Linked DNA regions of Homo sapiens: region 2 is linked to region 1. The links come from fine-mapping of genetic effects on gene expression. A gene starts in region 1. The other region holds a variant in brackets. All regions are shown on one strand. Distances are from middle to middle.

Region 1 (5,381 bases):
CAATAGGGCAAGGTCACTCCCATTGTCTTCACATTTCAGAGCATTTAGTTGAAGCTATGTCCAAGATAAGAACTCTAAGTTCCTGATTCTTTATAAATTTATCAGTTGTAATGTCCTTTCCCCAAATCACTCTGCCTCTAAGGCAGTAGAATTTTGCCTCTCTTTTTTATTTAGTATTGATACCTGCAATATGCCTGAGAAAGAAATCTAAAGGGACACTTATTGAGACAATAAAGGCACATGCAAGATCATGAAAGAGACAGAGAGGTGGAAAAGATGATGTTTTAAAGATGATGCCCATTGAAAGATGAGCAGAGAAAAGAATGCAGGAGATAATTTCAAGGAAAAAAAAATTTCACTGAGCTAAAAGTGTTCAAGCCTAAGAATACCCCCTCTAAGGGTAAAGTTTCATTCTCACCGATATGACAAACATTTTCCCAACAGAAGAAATTTAACACATTATATAAATACCCCAATACGCAAATGGTGGTAGTAATAATTAGTTTTCTCCCCTTTCATCTCCGTTGTTTCTGCCCACACGCATTTCCTATTTCGAGCTTTGGTGTAACAAATGCATCTTTTAAACTGGAAGCCCACGCCTTGTTTTTGCACAAACACAGGTCTCTTTATCGCCACGTGCAGTCTCTCCAGCTCAGGGAGCCGAACAATGAGGCATTTTCTTCTCTCCCTGGCTGCAGAGCTCTGACAGAATTCATTTAATTTCCATGTAAAGTGTAATCGGCGGATAATAATAGGTCACTCACAGCAATATCATTCTGCTCGCCCTGATCACCCATCATTGTGCTAATTGCGGGATAATGTAATATACAGCCAAGGCACACACATAGAATTAGACTGAGCATTTGTTTTTGTGATGCTATGAACAGGATATAAGAGAGAGTGTCATGTCAGCAAATATCATAGACATAGCCCCAGTCTTCCTAAAATGACTCAGGAAATAAAAGTAAAGATTCTTGTATACAGAGGATCTTTGGTATTCTTGATGTCACCTGCAAAATCCACAGGACTTAGGTGATTTTTCTGGGCACAGCTAGACCACGTAAATGCTCTGTCATCCCTGATGTCCCAGTTTTTTGGCTCCTTGGGACAGAAGCTTAGAGCAGCCAAATGATTGCTTGGGCAGGTGACAATCACCTGCTAATTGGCTGTGCTCATTTTAAAATATTTCAAAAATATTGATCATAAACCTTAGATTCTTCTTTCTAAGCCCAAAGACCCTCAAAGCAGCAGAGGCCTTTTCTGTATAGAATTGCTATCCTGGCCAGGCACGGTGGCTCACGCCTATAATCCCAGCACTTTGGGAGGCCGAGGCAGGCGGATCACGAGGTCAGGAGATCCAGACCATCCTGGCTAACAAGGTGAAACCCCGTCTCTACTAAAAATACAAAAAATTAGCTGGGCAAGGTGGCGGGCGCCTGTAGTCCCAGTTAGTCGGGAGGCTGAGGCAGGAGAATGGCGTGAACCCGGGGGCGGAGCCTGCAGTGAGCCGAGACCGCGCCACTGCACTCCAGCCTGGGCGACAGAGTGAGACTCCATCTAAAAAAAAAAAAATTGCTTTCCTTCCTGTAGAAACCTAAATTTTCCCATGCATGCTGTTTCTTTTTTGTCTCTGTGTTGGCAAAGTCAGGAGCTATCATAGCACATGGGCGCCAAAAAGGTGGGTCCTAAAGATGGCCTAGCCCAACACGTTCATTTAATTTATTTCATGATTTTTTATTCTTGTTACAAAGACAATTCATGTCTATTGTAAGTTATCTGGAAAGAGGGAAGAAAACAGAAGTGAACCCAACCCTCCAGAGAGCCCTGCAGTGCAGAGAATGAAGGTGAAGCCACAGAGAAAAATAATTTTTCTTTCTCAGAGAGGGACACTAGGAGGGGTGGAAGGATGTGTTTGCAAGAGGTTTGAAAACTCATATCTGAGAATAGTGTATGTCCGTCTTAGCAGTCAGCATCCCTCATGGATGTTGTCTAATCCTCATGCGCTGGGTGGGGCCTCCCAGCAACTCTCCTGCCAAGAAGCAAGGCAGCCTACTGGTCAGCACAAAGCTTGGCCAGCTCCAGCGCTTCAAGCCAGATTTTCAGGCTTTGGAAGAAGAGAAGAGCCAGCCCATTCCCTGCTCTCCTTCTCTGGTTTTTTTGGGGTATGTGTGAAGATGGAAATTATGCTCATGACCTGACAGAGACAGAAAGATAGAGAACTTCACAGACGCTAGGAGATGGAATCAGATGAGAAACAGCCTGTATTAATCTGTTTTCACACTGCTATAAAGATACCACCTGAGACTGGGTAATTTATAAAGAAAGGAGGTTTAACTGACTCACTGTTCCGCATGGCTGGGAAAGCCTCAGGAAACTTACATTCATGGTGGAAGACGAAGGGGAAGCAACACACTTCTTACGTGGCAGCAGCAGCGAGCAAGGGATCGAAGGGGAAGTGCCACATTTTTAAACCATCAGTTCTCGTGAGAACTCATTCACTATCACGAGAACAGCGTGGCGGAAACCACTTCCATATTAAAATCACCTCCCACCAGGTGCCTCCCTCGACACGTGAGGATTACAACTTGAGATGAGTTTTGGGTGGAGACACAGAGCCAAACCATACCAAGGTCCAAGGGAGAAAGAACCAGAGAAAGCAGATGGAGCTGAGAGACAAGTGTAGGGGAGAAACAAATACAGCACCAGGAGTGAGAGAGTGAGGAAGGGATAAAGGAACAAGACAGAGGCCCAGAATGGTAGGGAACAGAGAAACAGAGGGAGAGAGGTACAGAGGGAGAGGATAATGGAAGGGAAGAGAGAGAGATGGGCAATGAGGGATGAAAAGAGAAAGAGAAACCCAGAGTGAGACAGAACTAAATGAAACTGACATGAGTGGCGTCTATACAACAGGCTGAGCCCAACGTTGTGGCAGGGGTCTGGAGGGAGGTGAGTGTGAATGTGTGCATGTGCATGTGTTTGTGCATGAGGGGGCGCTGTTGGTGCTAGAAGGAGCCTTAGACAATGCACAGGATTTAAAAGCTTCCTCTGGCTGGGCGCCGTGGCTCACGCCTGTAATCCCAGCACTTTGCGGGGCCCAGGCGGGCGGATCACCTGAGGTCAGGAGTTCCAGACCAGCCTGGCCAATATGGTGAAACCCCGTCTCTACCAAAAATACAAAAATTAGCTGGGCGTGGTGTCAGGTGCCTGTAATCCCAGCTACTCAGGAGGCTGAGGCAGGAGAATTGCTTGAACCTGGGAGGCTGAGTTTGCAGTGAGCCGAGATAGCACCACTGCACTAAGGTCTGGGTGACAGAGCAAGACTCTGTCTCAAAAAAAAAGCTTCCTCTGACTTTTGATTCATACACTCATGTCTACCCCTAGATACTCAGAGCACCTTGATAAGCCTGAAGAGGAGATTGTGTTCTTTATTCTTTCTCTCTTACCTGAAAAGCATTACTTCTTCCCATATTTCAACCATTTCGTCAACAATTTGGTGATTCCCTGGTTCATGACTCTGCACACTGAGAAGCATGAGGTCATTTTGGAGGGGGCTCCAACCAGACCAAATGTGATATGAGCTGAGCAGAGGGAGTGGGGTTTGGTGAGCGGGAAAGCAGTGAACACCCTCTGTTGGTTCAGTTCAGGGGTCAGGCCCAGCTTCCCCAGGGCACTGAGAGCTAACTCAGATTTCCAGCACTGAGGTCACAGATCCAGGAATGGGGACAAAGAGTGCCAAGCCTGAGGCTTCAGGTGAGTGGTCAATGACTCTCCATCCAGGGCGTCAGCCTATAGGTCCATAAGTAGAAACTAGCAGGCATCAGACTGAAGGGACACTGGACCCTGGGCTCAAAGCCCAGGACCGAATTCTAGAAGCCAACATAGCAGGGGGTGGAGGTGAAGAGAAAGCTCTGTTCATGAGCAAAGTGGCCCTAGGGACACTGGATTCTGAGAATAAATGGCAGTGGAGGGTCCCTAAGATGGAACAACAGAGTTACTCAGTAAACGTAGCTAGGCTTCCCCATCCTAGATCACAGTGGCCGACTTGATTCAAAGCATCAGAAGGTGGACAGAGGAAGCAGCTGCTACCCTCCTGCCTGTGAAAGTTGTCTTGAGCTCTGGTCAATGGAAGACTCATTTGTGAAGAATGGAGAGAGAGAGAGGAGACATTGTCCCTGTCCTATAGGTGTGCCCAGTCACAAGGGAGACATGAGAAAACACCCCCCGACACACACACACACACACGCAAACACATCTCCAAACATGCTTATGACTACCATTATGATAATGGAGATACACAAAAAAAAGGAATAACAAATTCTACATCCTTGCTACTCAAAGCATGGTCCACGGACCTGAAGCATCAGCATCACCCGGATGCTTATTCAAAATGCAGTAGCCCAGGCCCTGCCACAGCTATAGAAGTAGGATCTGTGTTTTATCAAGAGCACATGAAGCCTGAAATGCCACACTCCACATGACAGGGGATCAGAGAAGGCTTCTTGGAAGTGTAACACTTCCGTGAGTTGGGTGTTACTTTGTCTTATAAGTAAGGAAAATGATATTTGAAAGACTGGATGGGTAGCCCAAAGCAGCATATCTCTTAAATGACCAAAGCTGGTCTCAAACTCAGGTTTATGACTGAAAATTAAACTTACTAAATCAAAGATCACCACTTATGTCATGGCGGCTATGTGCCAAGCCCAGAGCTAAGTACTTTATTACTCAGTTCTTTGTGTGTTTGGATTCTCACAATAACCATGTAAGATATATTTTCCCCAGTGCACAGAGGAAGTAACAACAGGCTCAAAAAAGGCAGGTGATGTTTCCCAAAGCCACACAGCTAGCAAGGGGCAAAGCTGGGATTCAAATACACAACTGTCTATTCCTGAGTCTGGGCTTGATCTTCGATCTGCTTTATATTGCCCAGGCCTGGTCACTGTGCCCCCCTGCCTCATTTTCTAAAGATGGAAAACCTGCTCTTCCGGTGACATCTATCATTCTGTTCTTCTGTCTGGTCACAGCCAGCCAACTGTGGCCAAGCCTGTGGCCAGCCGGCAAGGACAACAGAAGCCACAAGCTGGGAGCAGGCAGCAGAGAGATCTGTGGCACATGCTGGTCCCTAGCATTGGGCACGAGGGCTCCAGATCAGCACAGCATTTGGAAACCCACTTTAGGGTCAGAACTGGACATTTGTGTGCTTTCTGCCTGAACCATGCACTTAATGTCCTCCCATATCCACAGGCCAGACCCCCTGGAGCTGCCAGCCTGGGAAATGTTAAAGGATGTCAGGTTCCCAGAATGTTTTGAGTTTTCCCAGTAGCAGGATGTCGGGGCTGGGGAGGCACTTCTGTGTGCTCGACTGTTTCTCTCGTTATAGCAAG
Region 2 (5,381 bases), 550 kb after region 1:
CCATTTTTTCTACTTTTTCTCCCACGTCACTTTGTATAACCCTCTTATACATTCAGGAAAGCAGCCTTTGGTTAAATGGTACACACTTTTGTCCCCCCCCCACCCCTCGGTTTATTATTAATTTATTTCTTTATCATATTTTTTGCCATGGATTTTTTTAATGTATAAAATAACCTTCTAACAGATCCTTTCATTTTCACCCTTACCACAACTGTAATCTTTTAAAAACGAAAGCCAGATCATGTTGCTCCCTTGCGTAAAACCTTCCTACTGTTTTCCATCATTCTTAGAATAAATTCTGCAAATTTACCATGACCTTAAAGGCCCTTCCTGGTCCAGAAGCTGCCTGTCTCTCCAGCTCATGCCTCCCCTTCACTCACTGGGCACCACACATGCCTGAGCTCCTGCTCGTGTCAGTTCTTGGTACCTTGTTTAACTTCCATCTAGAATGTTTTTTCCTCTTGTCGACAGATAGCGGACAGAAGACGGCACTTCCATTCTTCGAGCCATGGTTTCAGAGTCACCTTCTCAGAGAGGCTTCTGGTATCCCCCATTTAAAGGAGGCCTGCCTTGGTTATCCTCTGTCTCCATTCCATGTCTGTCTTCTTACACTTACCACAGTGTACAGGTACTTATGGTTTGCTTCCCTCTGTCATTTCCACTCCAGAATACAAGCTCCCTGAGGACAGGACCCTGTCTGTCTTGTTCACCATTGCAGCCCAGCATCTCTACCAGTGCCTGAAACATGTAGTCTCTCCCCAGTTCTTATTTAATGCATGAATTCATGTCTAGTTAGAATTCCCATCCCCTTCCTTCACAGCTTTGCATTTTTCTGGGACGTTTAGAAAGGTATTGATCTCTTGTTTCATTTTCAGGTTCGAGGTCATTCATTGAGATTCCTTTTCATTCAGTGCCCTCTCTGTTCCAGGCACTGTTTGTAGGCACTGGGATTACTGTGTGAACAAGACAGTGGCCCTCCAAAAACTCTAATCCCAGTGTGGACATCATGAGCCCATCACAAAAGGTAAATGGAGAAAAGAAATAAATGATTTTCAAAGATGACAAGAGCTATGGAGAATATAAAGCAGGATTATGTGAATGTGAAAATAAATTTAAATAAAATAAACTTGAAGTAAAGCAGGATTATGAATGTCATTATGTGAAAATAAAGCAGGATGGGGGTGCCCAGGGGGGTCTCTCAGGAGGGGACACATAAGCAAGATGAGAAAGAGGCAGTGTGGGACAAGTGTGCCAGGCAGGAGAACACCAGGTGCCAAGTTGCTGAGCAGGAAGGAGCTTGGTGAGTCCCAGGCACAGAGATACTGGGGCAGCCTCAGAGGAGTTCCTCAGTCATGAGAGGAGGGATCACCCCACAGAGGTGGGCAGGGACTTCCGGGGACATGTATGGCACCATTCTAACTGCAAGGAGCAGCCACTGCCGCTCTCTAAACCAGGGAGGGCACCACACTGTGATCCATTTAGAAGTCAGTTTAGTGAAAGAAAAAAAGAGAGACCTAGCCTCATAATTTGTCTTTACTCAAAACTGCTGGTCAGTTGTCTCATGTATTAAATAATTCATCCTGGCCGGGCATAGTGGCTCACGCCTATAATCCCAGCACTTTGGGAGGCTGAGGCAGGCGGATCACTTGAGGTCAGGAGTTCGCAACCAGCCTGGCCTCGGCCTTTTCACATGGTGAAACCCTGTCTTTACTAAAAATACAAAAATTAGCCGGGTGTGGAGGTGGGCACCTGTCATCCCAGTTACTCCGGAGGCTGAGGCAGGAGAATCACTTGAACCCTGAACCCAGGAGGTGGAGATTGCAGTGAGCTGAGATCGCACCACTGCACTCCAGCCTGGGTGACAGAGAGACACTCTGTCTCAAAATAAATAAGTAAAATGAAATAAATCTATTTTTCCCTCCCCAAGATTTGATGTGACGTGCTTCTTTTAACATGCTTTGGTGGCCCTTGAACAACTTGGCGGTTGGGAATACCAACCTCCCACGCTGTCAAAAATCCACATGTAACTTTCAACTCCCCCAAAATTTAGCTACTATTACTGTTGACTGGAAGCCTTACTGATAACATAGTCAATTAACATATATTTTGTATGTCATATGCATTATATACAGTATCTTACGATAAAGTAAGCTAGAGAAAAGAAAATGTCAAGAAAATCATAAGGAAAAGAAAATATATTTACTATTCATTAAGTGGAAGTGGATCATCATAAAGATCTTCATCCTCATTGTATTCAGTTGAGGAGGTTGAGAGGGAGGAAGGGGAGGGGTTGGTCTTGTTCTCTCAGGGGTGGCAGAGGCGGAAGAAAACTCACAAGTAAGTTAATTCCTGCAGTTCAAATCCCTGTTGTTCAAGGGTCAACTAACTGTCCTAAATTTCCCTTGGATATTTAGTATATTTAGGGGCTCCATTCTGTTCATTTGTTACCTGAAACCAAACGTTTTGATTATTGTATCTTCATGATATATTTTAACATCTCCAACCACCACCCTTCCTTTATTATTATTTTTTACAGAATTATCCTAATTTTACACATTTGTTTTTTCCCAGGTTATTTCCTAATCCTTCTGCCAAATTTCAAAAGTGAAATCCTCTTCATGTTTTAACTAAAATGTGTTAATAAATTAAAGAGATATTGTGTTTTTAACAATATTATAATATTCTAGTAATAATATACACCACCTATTTTTACTTGTTCCCATAGTGGATTTTTGCTTTTTATACATTAATTCAACAGCTATTGGTTTATTAAAATAACTCATATAACTTGCTTGTAAAAACTTGTGGAAAT[T/C]TGGAAAACAGAAACGCAAAAGGAAAAAGAAAATACAGAAGCAACTAAGAATCCTATATAATTGTATCATGCAGAGAGAACAATTGGTTAATGGGTTCAAGGAGTCTCTTTTATTCTTGTACATGCAGGCACTTGTATGGGTTATTATATAGCATATTTCATTTCACACTGTTTAAAAATGAATTTTTTTTTTTTTTTTTTTTTTTTTTTGAGACAAAGTCTCACTCTTGTCGCCCAGGCTGTAGTGCAGTGCCACAATCTCGGCTCACTGCAACCTCTGCCTCCTGGGTTCAAGCAATTCTCCTGCCTCAGCCTCCCAAGTAGCTGGGATTACAGGCACCCACCACCACATCCAGCTAATTTTTGTATTTTTAGTAGAGATGGGGTTTCCCCATGTTGGCCAGGCTGGTCTCAAACTCCTGACCTCAGTTAACCCAACCACCTTGGTCTCCCAAAGTGTTGGGATTACAGGTGTGAGCCACCGCACCTGGCCGAAATTTCATATTTGATCCTGTGATAGTAAGTATTTTCTAAAGCAAAATTATAATAGTTACCCAATATTATACCACACAAATTTTTGATAATTTATTTAACCACTATTTAATTATTATACATGTCAAGGATTTGGGGTAATGTTTGGTTCTTGTAAGTGTTATTACAATGAACGCCTTTGAATTTTTCTTCTAAAAGAAAAATGTAAAGCTATCTTGTAAAGATAGTTCCTTTTGACTTCACCTGTAGTTGACATCTTTTACTAGTTTTTCTCCTGGAGTGGAAGGCCCTTTTGTATAGCAAAGGTTTTAACCCTTTTTCTGCCAAATGCGTATGATGTTCACCTAGTTTGCTGTTTGCCTTTTAATTGTATAGAGTATATTGAATGAGGGAAGGTTAAATTTTTTAATATTTTGGGGATTTTTTTAAAAGGTGAGGATCTATCTAGATTGATTTTTCTTCCAAATAATCAATTTTCACGATATGATTTGTTGAACTATATGCCCTTATTGTTCTCATTCTGAAGGTGTTTTAGTCTATACCAACTTCTAGTTCACACAGAACTATCTATTCTATTCTATTCTATTCTATTCTATTCTATTCTATTCTATTCTATTCTATTCTATTCACCTGTCGGTTGAGTCTTACTCCTGTGCTAAACCATTGTAATTACTAGTGTCATGTTGTATTTCAATTTCCTGAAGGTAAGAGTTCCGTTTTTCAATATGTTCTAATTCACACAGCGGCCGGTTAGCTCAATTGGTTAGAGTGTGGTGCTAATCAAAATGTTCTAATTCTGAATCCAGAATAGAAAGAGGTCTCAAATAAACAGCAAGAATCTCATACATGTTGGCTGGTGTGTTCATATGAGAATTAATTCCACACCAAGCGCACTAACTATGCTGAAATGGAAGAGCTGGGAAAGAGATCTTATGCCTTGACTGCCTGCTTCCTTGAAACAAAGGCGCTCATTGGAAACTACAGTTCCCAAAATCCACTGCTCCAGGGCTTGACTGGTGCCTCTGCTGCCCACTGCACTGAGCTCATGAACCACTCTGGCCAGAATGGTCCTTTCATCGGGCTCCAGACAGCAGCCAGAGGATGTCCTGAGATGGTGGCTAGGAGAGGGAAGATATAAAATGTGCTCTGAGGGCCTCAAAGGCAGGACCACTGTCTATTGGGATGGATGTTCAGTTCTTAGGTTAGACAGGACACTAGCCCTCTGGCCCAAGAAGCCCGGAGAGAGGGAGAACCCCTCGACCTGTCTTCTTCCCTTTTGGCTAATACATTCATTCAGACTGGAGTGGCAGAACACGCTTTGGCATTTAACAGCAATCTCCATTCTGCTTCGTGTAGAAACTGCCCTAGATACCTGGATCATGAGCTACCAGTCTTGTTTTCCGGCAATGATATCCTGTTCTGCTCCTTTCTGTTACTTTAAAAGTATATCTGGGCCAGGAACGGTGGCCCACACCTGTAATCCCAGCACTTTGGGAGGCCAAAGTAGGCAGATCACTAGGGCAGGAGTTCAAGACCAGCCTGGCCAATATGGTGAGACCCTGTCTCTACTAAAATACAAAAATTAGCCGGGCGTGATGGCACTTGCCTGTAGTCCCAGCTACTTGGGAGGCTGAGGCAGGAGAATCGCTTGAACCCAGGAGGCGGAGGTTGCAGTGAGCCAAGATCTTGCCACTGCACTCCAGCTTGGGCAACGGAGCAAGACTCCATCTCAAAAAAAAAAAAAAAAAAAAAATTATATCTGAAGGGCCTTGGAAGGTATTAAGAATTGCTTGCCAGGTGCCACCTGGAATTAGAAGTCACCAATTACTTGTTTTAGTAAATAAATAAAGTAAATATAAAATGCTAATGTCTTTCAGTATTAAGTTTTGCAAGAAGTGGCTGCAATTTTTCTCTGTGGGTGCTGTTGACAGCTCCTGCTTGGTCTTAGGAAGCTGGGGAAGACAGAAAGAAGGAATAATGGCTACTAAGCAGCTTGGGAGAGGGAGAGTTTCCTTAGCCCATGAGCTCAAACTATGTCACTTCTCTGTATTACCTCTAAGACCCTGCTGAGAATAAG

Evidence for each region. PIP is the estimated chance that this variant, and not a neighbour inherited with it, causes the effect. A credible set is the group of variants that fine-mapping cannot tell apart.
Region 2: its variant is the best candidate, but not a certain one, in a credible set for the expression of LINC00922 in lung (TOPMed, PIP 0.62).

Annotation. Positions count from the first base shown.
Region 1 is chr16:65,573,860-65,579,240 of GRCh38, forward strand. LINC00922 (long intergenic non-protein coding RNA 922) reads right to left here and starts at 2,438. Exons shown (of 10, transcript NR_174971.1): 1 at 2,380-2,438.
Region 2 is chr16:66,121,348-66,126,728 of GRCh38, forward strand. No RefSeq gene overlaps it. Among named protein-coding and RNA genes, the nearest start is that of CDH5, 240 kb to the right of the region's middle. The variant T/C (reference allele first, on the strand shown) is at 2,813.